Homo sapiens: one gene and its partners. The protein of the gene in region 1 purifies or fractionates together with the protein of each later gene. This does not show direct contact. Each region holds a gene or a part of one and is shown on either strand. Other genes may lie near its edges.

What was found.
Region 2: the proteins of NMS (region 1) and FRAS1 purify together in Homo sapiens (affinity purification with mass spectrometry; one large-scale study listed by BioGRID and IntAct). This does not show direct contact.
Region 3: the proteins of NMS (region 1) and BTD purify together in Homo sapiens (affinity purification with mass spectrometry; one large-scale study listed by BioGRID and IntAct). This does not show direct contact.

Annotation. Positions count from the first base shown.
Region 1 is NC_000002.12:100,468,982-100,472,738, forward strand, and holds the start of NMS (neuromedin-S preproprotein), read left to right. Parts: upstream 1-1,500; 5' UTR 1,501-1,507; coding exon 1,508-1,583; intron 1,584-3,757. UniProt on the Homo sapiens protein: Implicated in the regulation of circadian rhythms through autocrine and/or paracrine actions.
Region 2 is NC_000004.12:78,063,708-78,067,364, forward strand, and holds part of FRAS1 (extracellular matrix organizing protein FRAS1 isoform 1 precursor), read left to right. Parts: intron 1-2,277; coding exon 2,278-2,309; intron 2,310-3,657. UniProt on the Homo sapiens protein: Involved in extracellular matrix organization. Required for the regulation of epidermal-basement membrane adhesion responsible for proper organogenesis during embryonic development. Involved in brain organization and function.
Region 3 is NC_000003.12:15,632,599-15,636,255, reverse strand, and holds part of BTD (biotinidase isoform 1 precursor), read right to left. Parts: exon of another isoform or gene 3,390-3,657; intron 833-3,389; 5' UTR 817-832; coding exon 568-816; intron 1-567. UniProt on the Homo sapiens protein: Catalytic release of biotin from biocytin, the product of biotin-dependent carboxylases degradation.

The DNA of each region.
Region 1 (3,757 bases):
TAAAACAATTATATATTATGACTTAGGTAAAGTATTAACATGTTTGAGCCATGTGTAAACATCCAGCAGTTATTAGTAACCACCTAATCTCTAAAAGAGCAAAAATTAAAGACATGCGGCCAGGCGCAGTGGCTCACGCCTGTAATCCCAGCACTTTGGGAGGCTGAGGTGGGCAGATCACGAGGTCAGGAGTTTGAGACCAGCCTGACCAGCATGGTGAAAACTGGTCTCTACTAAAAATACAAAAATTAGCTGGGCGTGGTGGTGGGCGCCTGTAATCCCCGCTACTCAGGAGGCTGAGGCAGGAGAATCGCTTGAACTCAGGAGGCAGAGGTTGCAGTGAGCCAAGATCGCGCCACTGCAATCTAGTCTGAGTGACAGAGTGAGACTCTGTCTCAAAAAGAAAAAAAAAATAAAGATATGCATAATGAAAAAAACAAAAGATATTTGTTTCACGTATACTATGTATGTTGCCCTTTTTGCAAGAAATAGAAGACTTCAGTCTTTCTTCTTCTTTCTATCTGATGTCTAATCCCAAGGAAGCATGTTTAAAAAATTACTTATCAATTAAAATTCCATATTCTTACAGAAATGACTGGGCTCAGGTACCTTTGAGTCCAAATTTCTTCTCTGATCCTTGATAGCTGGATGACCTTGGACAAGTTTCTTCATCTTTCCTAGCCTCTGTTTCCTCATTCATAAAATTAGGGTAATAACACATTCCTAATAGATTTTCTGTGAGAATTACATGAAATAACCTATGTGAAATGCCTAAAACAGATCCCAACATGTAGAAGCTCAGTAGATGAAGTTATTTATTATTATTAAACATTGTCATGTTTTCCTGAATACTGACAATTTGAAATATTTAACTTGTTCCTTAAAATGAATCTGGAAAGACCTTAAAGAGGCTAATTTCCAGCCATGATCTAAAAAACAAACAGAGCCCCAATTGAACTTTAGATTTTTACAAATATTATACAGAAGACTCCAAATTTTGTCCTTCTTAAATGCACCAAGATAACACAACATCCTTTGTTAGAGGTGGAAAATAAACAGCTTCGTAGGAAACAAGACTTTATCAAGCAATAATTTAGAGATTTGTGTCCTTTTTTTATTTTATCTCTTTTATTAAAAAGAGAAAAAGCCATTCTTGATTCAGAAATATTTCTCAGATCATTATAGAATAACAATCAGGACTCTCCACCTTTTATTTTCATTGCTGGGTTGTAAAACATGGCTCTCTACAATGCCTACTCCAGAAAGATATTATTCTACAAATAAGGGCTCAGCATGACATTTATGAGAAAGCCGGGGTCCTCCTGTGCAAAGCTGATTGGTGATCAGCCAGTGGGTTCCGGGGCGCTGCAAATAAAGGCACTTTCTTCGCTGGGCTGATCAGATGCAGGACAGAGGGTTGCCTCTGCCTGTGGACCTTGGGGAAATGCGCGGCTCCTGTCCTAGCAGCACCTGTCTGTGGCCAGCAAGGAGAAACCAGACTCTCACAATGAAACATCTTCGTCCCCAGTTCCCTCTCATCTTGGCCATCTACTGCTTCTGCATGCTACAGATTCCCTCCTCAGGTAAGGGGAGCTTCCTCAGACTCCATCTGGCCTAAACTCTGAGGATGTCTGAGACAGACCTTGATCCCCCAGGGCAGCTCTGGAGGGAGTCAAGCTTTATTCTCCCCCGCCAGACCTTCTTGATTTCTGGCTGCAATTTGTTGGAACCTTTAGGAGAGGATCAAGAGAGCGAGATGCTGCAGCCTTTTACTAAAGGAGACTTTTCCCTGTGGGACTGTCTTTAAGCTGCTCCTGCCCTAGGGATGTCCTGAACATGTGTCGCTAAAACTGAAGGGAAAGGCACTTCCTGGTGTGAGTTAGGGGAAGATCCCACTTGTAGCCATTTCTGCTCCCTGGATTCTGAAGAGACGAGGACAGAGTTGGTAAAACTGAGCTTACAGCCCCAGAGAGTGGAAATTGATGGGCAGTTCGAGAAGGGCGCGGGAGGAGCGCACACTGGAAAAAGGAATCTTTCCCAAGCCTTTCCATTGGGTTTTAGAGAAGCAGGGTTCCAGAGTGTACCGGAAGCCGCTACCTCCCGGGGCCAGTGAGCTGTCCGAGGTGCTGACCGGGTGCGGGCATCGCCTCACCGACTCTGAGAACTAGCTTCTAGGGAACAGGGGTGGAGTGAGGGTCTGTGGTTGGAATCTGTTACCACCATCTTCATAGGATGCAGGGAAGTGGGCGGTGGCAGAACAACTACGGTTGGAAACACATACCATTTTACATTTTTCCATTAGAATTTTGACTTAGGGGAGTAGAAAATCTTTGGTAATATATTGACAGAGAAAACATATTTCAAACAATATGTTTGTTTGTCATGTCCTACAATGTAATCACAAAACTGGGCCTTGCAAAGGACCATGAAGGTCATCTGGTTTAACCTCTCACAGGGTGCAGGGATCCCTTCTGTAGCTTCCCGATTCTATTTAACTACTTCAATGACCCCAACTCACTGCCAGCTATGACAGCCAGGTTCTGCCTCTTTGCTCCAGTAGAGTCCTGTTTATATTACATTTTTGTAAATATGTTATTACCTTTTATGTATCTTTCTATATGTTTATACTCACCTCCCTATTTTTTCCTGTTTGACTTTATGTTCCCTGAGGGTAAGTCTTTACGTTTTATTAGCAAAGAACCTCTCCATAAATCCTTATAGGATTGGTTTGCATTACTTTGCATTATTGAATGATTCCAATCACCAAAAACTTCTTTAGGCTAAGCTTAAGTGTGATCACATGTAACTTTCTAACCGTCAGTCTTTATTCTGTTATTTGGGGGAAACACAGGATAAGACTAATATCTCTTACTTATTGAAGTTCTCAAAATAGTTGAAAGCAGTTAACATATACTTCCTAATTTTCCTGTTTCCAGAGAAAACTATGCTCAGTGCCTTTACCTCATATCTTATCATTTCAAGTCAGGCTATTATCTTTTAAGGTTTAGGCACTGTTATTTGAATATAACATAACATTGCCTTTGCTTTATCTTGGCTCAGAGAGAACGCAGGGAACAAAATACCATACAATTTTCTTTTGTCTTGTTTTTAAACATAAACTGCTCTTGAGCCATACATTCCCTGTTCCACACATTAAAAATCTAAGTGCCAGGTTTTATATTTATCCATCTAATTTCATCTTGTTAGTTTTGACCTATCCAATTGATTCTTTCGACTGCACTATAGCTATCCCACCAAGTGTTGTATCACAGGCAAGTGAGAAGAGGAGTTCATTGAAGTTAGACAAAAGGTTGACAGGGTCCAGCTGCATGCCAGCAGCCTTCCCCAGAGCCCATCCCTAGAGAGTCTGTAGCAGCAGAGAGACGGGTATCCATGTGTCTTCAAAGTTCAAAGGTGATTCTGATGTCCATCCTTTGTTGACACCATTTTCTGAGATGCCATCCTCATGAATTCTATCAAAATACAAACTAAGTTGTTACCTTGGATTTTTTTCCTCCTCTTTGCTGACTTGCTAATAGTTGTACTGAACACTCATGGTAAATTAACAACCATGCTATTTTAAATTAATCTTTGTATAAATCTCAGATTTGCTAGTGGCAAGTAGAAGTGTATTTTCTTTGTAAATCCTTTTAACAACATCAGATCAGATCTTACTTTCCCACTGACCTCTTTTGAATGGTTCTTTGGTGGTTTATTATTTTAACAGAATGTCTGTTTTTCATGATAAAGACTTTGA
Region 2 (3,657 bases), on another chromosome or scaffold:
TACTCAGATACTTCTTAAGGTGCTTGATTTCCTTTGGAGCTTTGAAAAGAAATTGACTTTGGAAGGTAATGCTGTGGAGAGCAATAAAATTATTTGAGGATAGTCTTATTTTAAAGATTAAATTTTGTTTGTGTTTTTTCTAAAAGTTAAGTTTTGTTTAATCTAAAGTTTAAATTTTGTTAAATTGTACCTAAGTGATGATGATCTTTATTCTAAATTTTCTAAACACCAGAAATAATTAAATATGTCCATATAAGTAATTTAGAAAGTGAATTGTGTTCATATGTATTTATTTGAGATATATAGAATTATTTTAGTACACACATCACACACATACATATGTACACATATATATATTTCCTTTCTTATAACATACCATAGACTGAACTACTAAGTCTTGGAACAAGATTTCTTAAGGAAAAAGTAGTCAATTAAGAAGAATTTTCCTTCAAGGTTTTATCTCAAGTTATTCTTATTAGAACTTAAAGAATAATAATAAAAATAAATAAATAAATAAAATAAAAAAATAGGGAGTGTCTATAAAATCATTCATTTATAGACACTCCCTATTCCTTTCTTTCATATGTATAGAAATAAATTCCTTTTTTCATATGTACAGAAATTTTAATAAATATTAATGCCATGGCTAGAAACTATTTTAAAGTAAAATAATAAGTTTGTGTAAAATATAAACTCAAAAATGACATATTTATATTAATTATCCTATGTCTGCAGAGGAAGAAATACAAACCATTAAAAGTTGGAAATGTCATTAGGAGAAAGGCACAAGGGTGTCATAAATTTATAATTTTTGCTTATACATATGCCTTGTACTTAGCTAATGTGATGCCTTCATATTCTGGGTGAATTATATTAAAACACCAATAAAATTGTTGTATACCAAGAAAAAAAAAAAGAATATCAGGGACATAAAAATTATTTCAATAAATTTGCCCACAGAGATCTTTGATTCAAACCTAAGTGTAAATAGTCATCTCAGTTTTTTTAAAGATTGTTCTTAATTCCATTACTGGAGGAGAAGGTAGACCAATTCTTTCCTGAGAAGTTAATATTATTGGGACTTCATAAATGATCCATTAGAGGTAAGCACTGTGGTAAAATAATGTCCTTCTCTCTTTAGAAACCAACTGTGTGGAGCATTGTTAAGATATGCTTCACCTTGGTGTGTATATACTGTTCAAATGTGTTTTGCAGACTCAGTTTCTGAGAGAGTAGGTGACAGCACACTGCCCATCTCTTTCTAAGTTAAATCAAGACCTGTTGTGCAGCTCAAAAATTGGTTGGGAATGTGTCTATATTTTTTTTAAGTTAAGATTTCAGTTTTATAGTGTATATATATATATATATATATATATACATACACACACACACACTAAATACTACATATGCTATTTATACTATATATTATATATATACTATATATAGTATATAGTGGGTATATATGTATATATATGTGTATATATGTGTATATACTATATATGTACTATATATGGTATATAGTATATAGTGGGTATACATGTGTATATATATGTATATACTATATATGTAATAGTATATATGTAATGGTATATATAGTGTATATATTCTCTCTATATGTAGTACACACACACATATATATAATGTAGTGGGGTAAATACAACATTTCAACATCCTTAGAAAGGAAATACACAAGAATAAATTCACAAATGGAGGATGTAGGCACAAAATGCTAGGAGCTCAGAGGAGCATAATCTGGTGGGCAGAAGTTTCACAAAGGAGATGGGATCAAGTTCAAAGAGCTTGACTAGACAAAGTACATCTCCTGTAGAAAATGAAAATGAGCAAAGGCATTGAGACATGTAAATATATTACAGGATTCTAAGTTGGCCTCTTGGGTTGGACTGGAGGCTTAGTGTAAGCAAACAGTGGCAGGGAAGCCTGGATAAGTAAATGGGACTGGATTATGGAGGCTTTGCTGACTTATCACCAAGAAAAATATTTACTGTATTTATAGCATGTCGTTATAAACACATTTATCTTAAAATTCAAGTCATAAGTTTTAATGATGCTTTTCCTCATGTGTGTCCAAGGAATGTTGTTTTGGTGTATGGGGTTATTTCCCCAGGGGAAGAATGCTGAAGCTTTTAAGATTTTGGAAGAAGCTCATTTTCCTGGTTATGATGCATATAGATGCAGTTTTAGCAGCAAGCTTGCTGGGGCAGTGCCTATTGGTTTATTATGCATCCCTTTTAATTCTTGTTTTGTTTTTCCCCACAGGTGCTTGTGTCTATCAGGATTCCTTGTTGGCGGTAGGTCATTCTTTACATACTTGGTTTCTGTCATTTGAATGTAAAATGCTTGATTGAAGTTCCTGAGTGAGTGAGTTGACCCTATCATTGTAGAATATGTTTATTTTTCTTCAACGTTTGACAATTAGCCCTCATTCGGGCACAATGATGCTCAATTATTTAATACCTTTTCCAGAGTGAATTAGTTCTATTCAGATACTCAGGTATTGGAAGAGAAATTCAAACACTCAACACACGATTTACATTCTGTGGCTGTTCTTTGTGTTCTTTTAATCAGAGAGAAAATTAGATCCCATCCTTTTGTCAGATACAAACTGAAACACAATTTTTTAACTTCTGGTTGCATTTGCTTCCCACTTTGAACCCTTCTCCAAAAAAAGTATGATTATTAAATTAAGTAGAATAGGAAGGATTTCTGTTGTTACTTTGAATTATAAACTTAAGTTTTGGTGAACAGCAAAGAAATTAACATTTATTTCTGAACTCTTGCCATATAGGGTAAAATTGATTTTGAATTTAATGTCAGAATGACTTGGGGGAAAGGCTGATGTAAGTCTCATGCATTTCTTTTCATTACTAATGCACTATGGTGCATAACAGTGTGTTAAAGCCTTATTGAAAAGACTGTCTACACTCCATCAACTCTAATAAATGGTGTGACAAATCATTCTTCACCATGTTTTTATTTTGGTTTAATAAATGCTATAATAAAACTGAACTGAGATGGTTGGAAAGAATTTGCTCATTTACATCACAACCTGCTATTGACATGTGTGATATTGATAAGTCATCCTGGATTATCCTTGTGGTATTGAAATAGCTGAGGAATATCTGAAGTATCTTAGAGTCTAGATAACTGTAGATATTCACCATAATATCCTTGAATCTGCACTTTATATACTGTAGTTACTGCTGGAGAAGTTTATTTTTTAAATATTTTTCTATCAAAAATTAGGAAAAAGCCATTTTTATTGTATTTGTCATTCCATATCCTGCCCTGTTTATTCTTTAATATATTTTAGGAATCATTTGCTCTAAAATATATTATCACTTTTGGGGAGCTACAGTAGATATTTAGACAAGTCAGTTATCCGTGCTAATAAAAGAGAATTATTTATTGTGTAGAGTACTTCATAACTTTTCCATATATTTTCATAAGTATTCATATGTCTGATACTTATAATAGACCAATGAAATAGGCAGGCCATGTATCATTCCATACTCTTTCCCCTTTTAATGGAAAAGATGAGAGAGAGAGATGAAGAGATTTGCTAGAGGTAATTCACCATTAGTGGTGGACCAGAACAAGACATCCTGTCTTCTTCTGTTGTTCTGCCTATATGTGAAA
Region 3 (3,657 bases), on another chromosome or scaffold:
GGAGCAAACGGCATTCTTGCAGATGCTTACTACTTCAGTGAAGCTTCGAATGACTCAGAGAGGTCATCACGCCCAGTCATCTTCAAATTTTTCTGCACATTAGACTGCACTGGGGAGCCTTAAAACAATCCCAGTGCCAGTCCACACCCCTTCCACACCAATTACAACGGACTCTCCAGGACCCGGGCAGCCATAGTGTTTACCACTTACCTCGTGATTCTTATGTACAACCACACTTGAGAACTGGGGATCTAGTCCTGGGCTTCTCATACTTGCCATGTGAAAGCATCACCTGGGGATCCTGCTGCAATGCACATTCTGATTCAGTAGGTCTGGGGTGCCGCCCAAGATTTTGTATTTCTAACAAGCTCCCAGGGGATGCCGGTCCACGGACCACTCTCTGAGGGGTAAGGCTCCTAATTCAACTGACTAACTCAACTCAGGTTAACTACCTGGATGCTTTTTCAGAGGGTGGTAGGAAGCCTGGGATTACCCAACCACTGATCAAGGGGTAAAGAGCAATCTGCTCTGTATGAGAGAAACTCAGGTTCCGAGGAGCATTCTTGCCTTTTGGGCTGCAGTCATCACTTGCTGTTCATAGATGTCAAGGTTCTGGTTCATGAGCTCCAAGGCCTCTTGGCGGCTGATGAGAGCCAGAGGGTTCAGACTCAGGATGGATGGATGCTCATACACGGCAGCCACATAATATTCAGCCTCGTGATGGTCAGCCACGCTCTCCTCCCCGGTGTGGGCTCCCAGGGCAACCACGTAACAGCCGCAGAGGAAAAGAGCAAGCTTACTTCTGGCTCCAGACATAATGCAGACCACAAATCTGGAATGTAATGGGGCAAGGGGAAAACAGCTGAATAAAGAATCCTGCCAAGAATTTAACGTTTGCAGCTGTGATTTATTAATCCCAGCAATTAAACTCACTCGCAGTGATACTGCGGCTCAAAGAGTTTGTTTCATGTTCCTAATAAAAGAGTATGTGTTTCTCTCCAAACACGTAGCAAGCCACATTTAAAATGGCTCACTGTGTTAATAGTCTGGTTTTAGAACATTTCCAAAACAGACTCAACGTTTGCTATGATTTTCTTACCCAGTGTTCAGCAAGACTGTAGTGCGTCACTACCCACTTTTCTAGCTGTGCACTTAGATTTTAAGCAGTAGTAACTATCCAGATTATTTGACATAATTCTGTGATATATTTCACACTCTACCCTCTGCCCTCTATCCATACTACAGGTCAGCCATCCGTAATGTCTGTGATTGTCATGACCCTAATAACACAGCTTGGCTTTCCTGGCCATCAAAACCTAATGAATTACAATTCTCCCTGCATTTCTTTGGTTAGTAATAAATACTATGGATAACTCTCCCTTTATTCAGCACAAAATTATTTATTTGGTGCCAAGAAACTGCTGACTTCTACATAAATGCCAATAGCTACTTTCTTTTATAGACAAGCAAAGTATCCCAATAAAAGCATGTTATTTTTTCTCCTTGAACTTGAGAATCGCCATTGCACATTATCACTTTCTTAACCCCATCTCTGTGACTCCAAAACTCTTGCTCAAAAGCCTACTCATTTGGAAATAAAATCCTTTTTGCAGTGATAAAATGCAATTTTCTAGAAAATAAACTACAAATTTCCAGAGAGTAAACTCAGCTTCATAGCTTCTACCAGAAAAGACTAGAAATAAATGATACTTCTGTGTGTCTCCTCCTTCCTCCCAGAATAGGAATGTTTCTTTCTAAACAGTGTGCATTACTGTTTTAGAGTAAATAGTCCAATTCTGCCTTTAAAAATCAGCCTGGCCTCCCAGCTAAAGCGTCCTCTCAGGCAGAGATTTACTGGGTAGTGTGCCAAGGCCAGGCCACCTGCCCATGGAGATGTCCTGGGGCTGAACAACTGCCCAGGAATCCGGATTAAAAGTCAAGATAACAAAGACAAATCAAAGAATCATATTGCTGCCCTTTAAAAAGAAAATGACACCCTGTCCAAGTCTCAACTCATAACTCCTGTGTTTGCATTTTAAAACCAAACTCCCCAGGCTACAAATTTCTTTATTTTTTATCAAAAGTTCCAGAAACAAACCATAGCTCTTTTCGTCAACAGACTAAGAACTAGAAATGCTCATCTTGGCAAAATTAAATATTCCTCAGAATGAGAAGTATTCTCCCACCCCAACCCGGTTCCATCTCAAACTGTTATTTCTTTCCCCAGGGAAATGTACCATCCAAACACCAAACCCCAGGATTTGTTGCCATTCATCTGGGACACTGTAAACAATGTTTTAAGATAAGAACAAGGAGTCTTTGAGTGAGCAGTCATGAGTTTTTGAGTAGAAACAAAAGTATAATTGATAAGCTTTCTTATCTGAATTTTGCCTCTAAAGACAAGCAAGGAATAATTTAAAATGTCTCAGAAACCCATTTTTCCATTCCATCTCTGGTTTCACAATGATAACAGAGAGTGATTTTGGGGGCAAACTTTCATCTTCAAAGTCATACTGACAATATTTCTGAAGTATAACGCAAAGGCCTCACTAAGAGGTATGGAAACTGAGGCCAGGAGAGGAGGGTATGAACCAGTCCCCAGTGGGGGCAAGTGAGGAGTGCCTGGGGCCAAGAGTGGCATTCACATTACATCTCTTTCTCAACTGAGAGCTGGGTACCACCGATGTCGGGGTACAGAACATTTGTTTATGTCTAAAGGACTTGCAATCCAGCAAAACAAGGAAACCGCAAAATCCGCAAGGTATCACATTTCTTTCTATCTGGAGAAGATAAAATTTATTTTACAAAAGGAGCCCGGTAGGAGAGCTCTAAGTGGCAATCATTTGTGTGTGAACAAAGGTAGGTCGATAATAAGAGGTTATGCAGATTCAACCAGGTATTCATGCTTGAAAGAACCAAGCTTAATGAGGTAGAAGAGAATGAGTAATTACAATAAAAATAGGTCTAGTCAGCCGGCCCTCAGTATCCATTGTTTCTGCATCCATGGATTCCACCAACCTTGGATTGAAATTACTGGGGTGGGAGGGGGAGGAGGGAGCCCAATAAAAATAATAGCACAACAATAAAAAATAATAGCAATTTAAAAAATACAGTATAACAATTATTTATATAGCATTTAGTTTGTATTAGGTAGTGTAAGGGATCTAGAGATGATTTAAAGTGTACAGGAGGAAGTGTTTAGGTTACATGTAAATTCTACACCATTTGATATAAGGGACTTGAGCATCTGAGGGTTTCGGTATCCACGGGGTCCTGGAACCAGTCCCAACAGATACTGAGGGACAACTGTACATCAATTTGCCCTTCCCAAAGAAACATTTTACCCAAATTAGCAAATGCTGCTTTTCTCTCTTTGGCATCACACATACCTTCTCAGGAAAAAGTAAATAGGGCCTGTGGCAAGGACTCTGAAGGGTTCAGCAGGCAGCAGCGGGAGGTGCTCAGTTGTAAAGTGGCAGGACTAGAGGTAGGGCTGGAGGGGCCCAGGCATCCCCCAGAAGCCTTCCAGCAGCTACCAGGTGCTGGCCCGTGAGGTTATGCACGGGACGACTGGGGTGCGGGGCCTTCCTGGGAACAAGGGGCCCTGGAAGTCATGGGGTTCTTGGAAATACAGCAGCTGACCCATCTTTAGAGCTG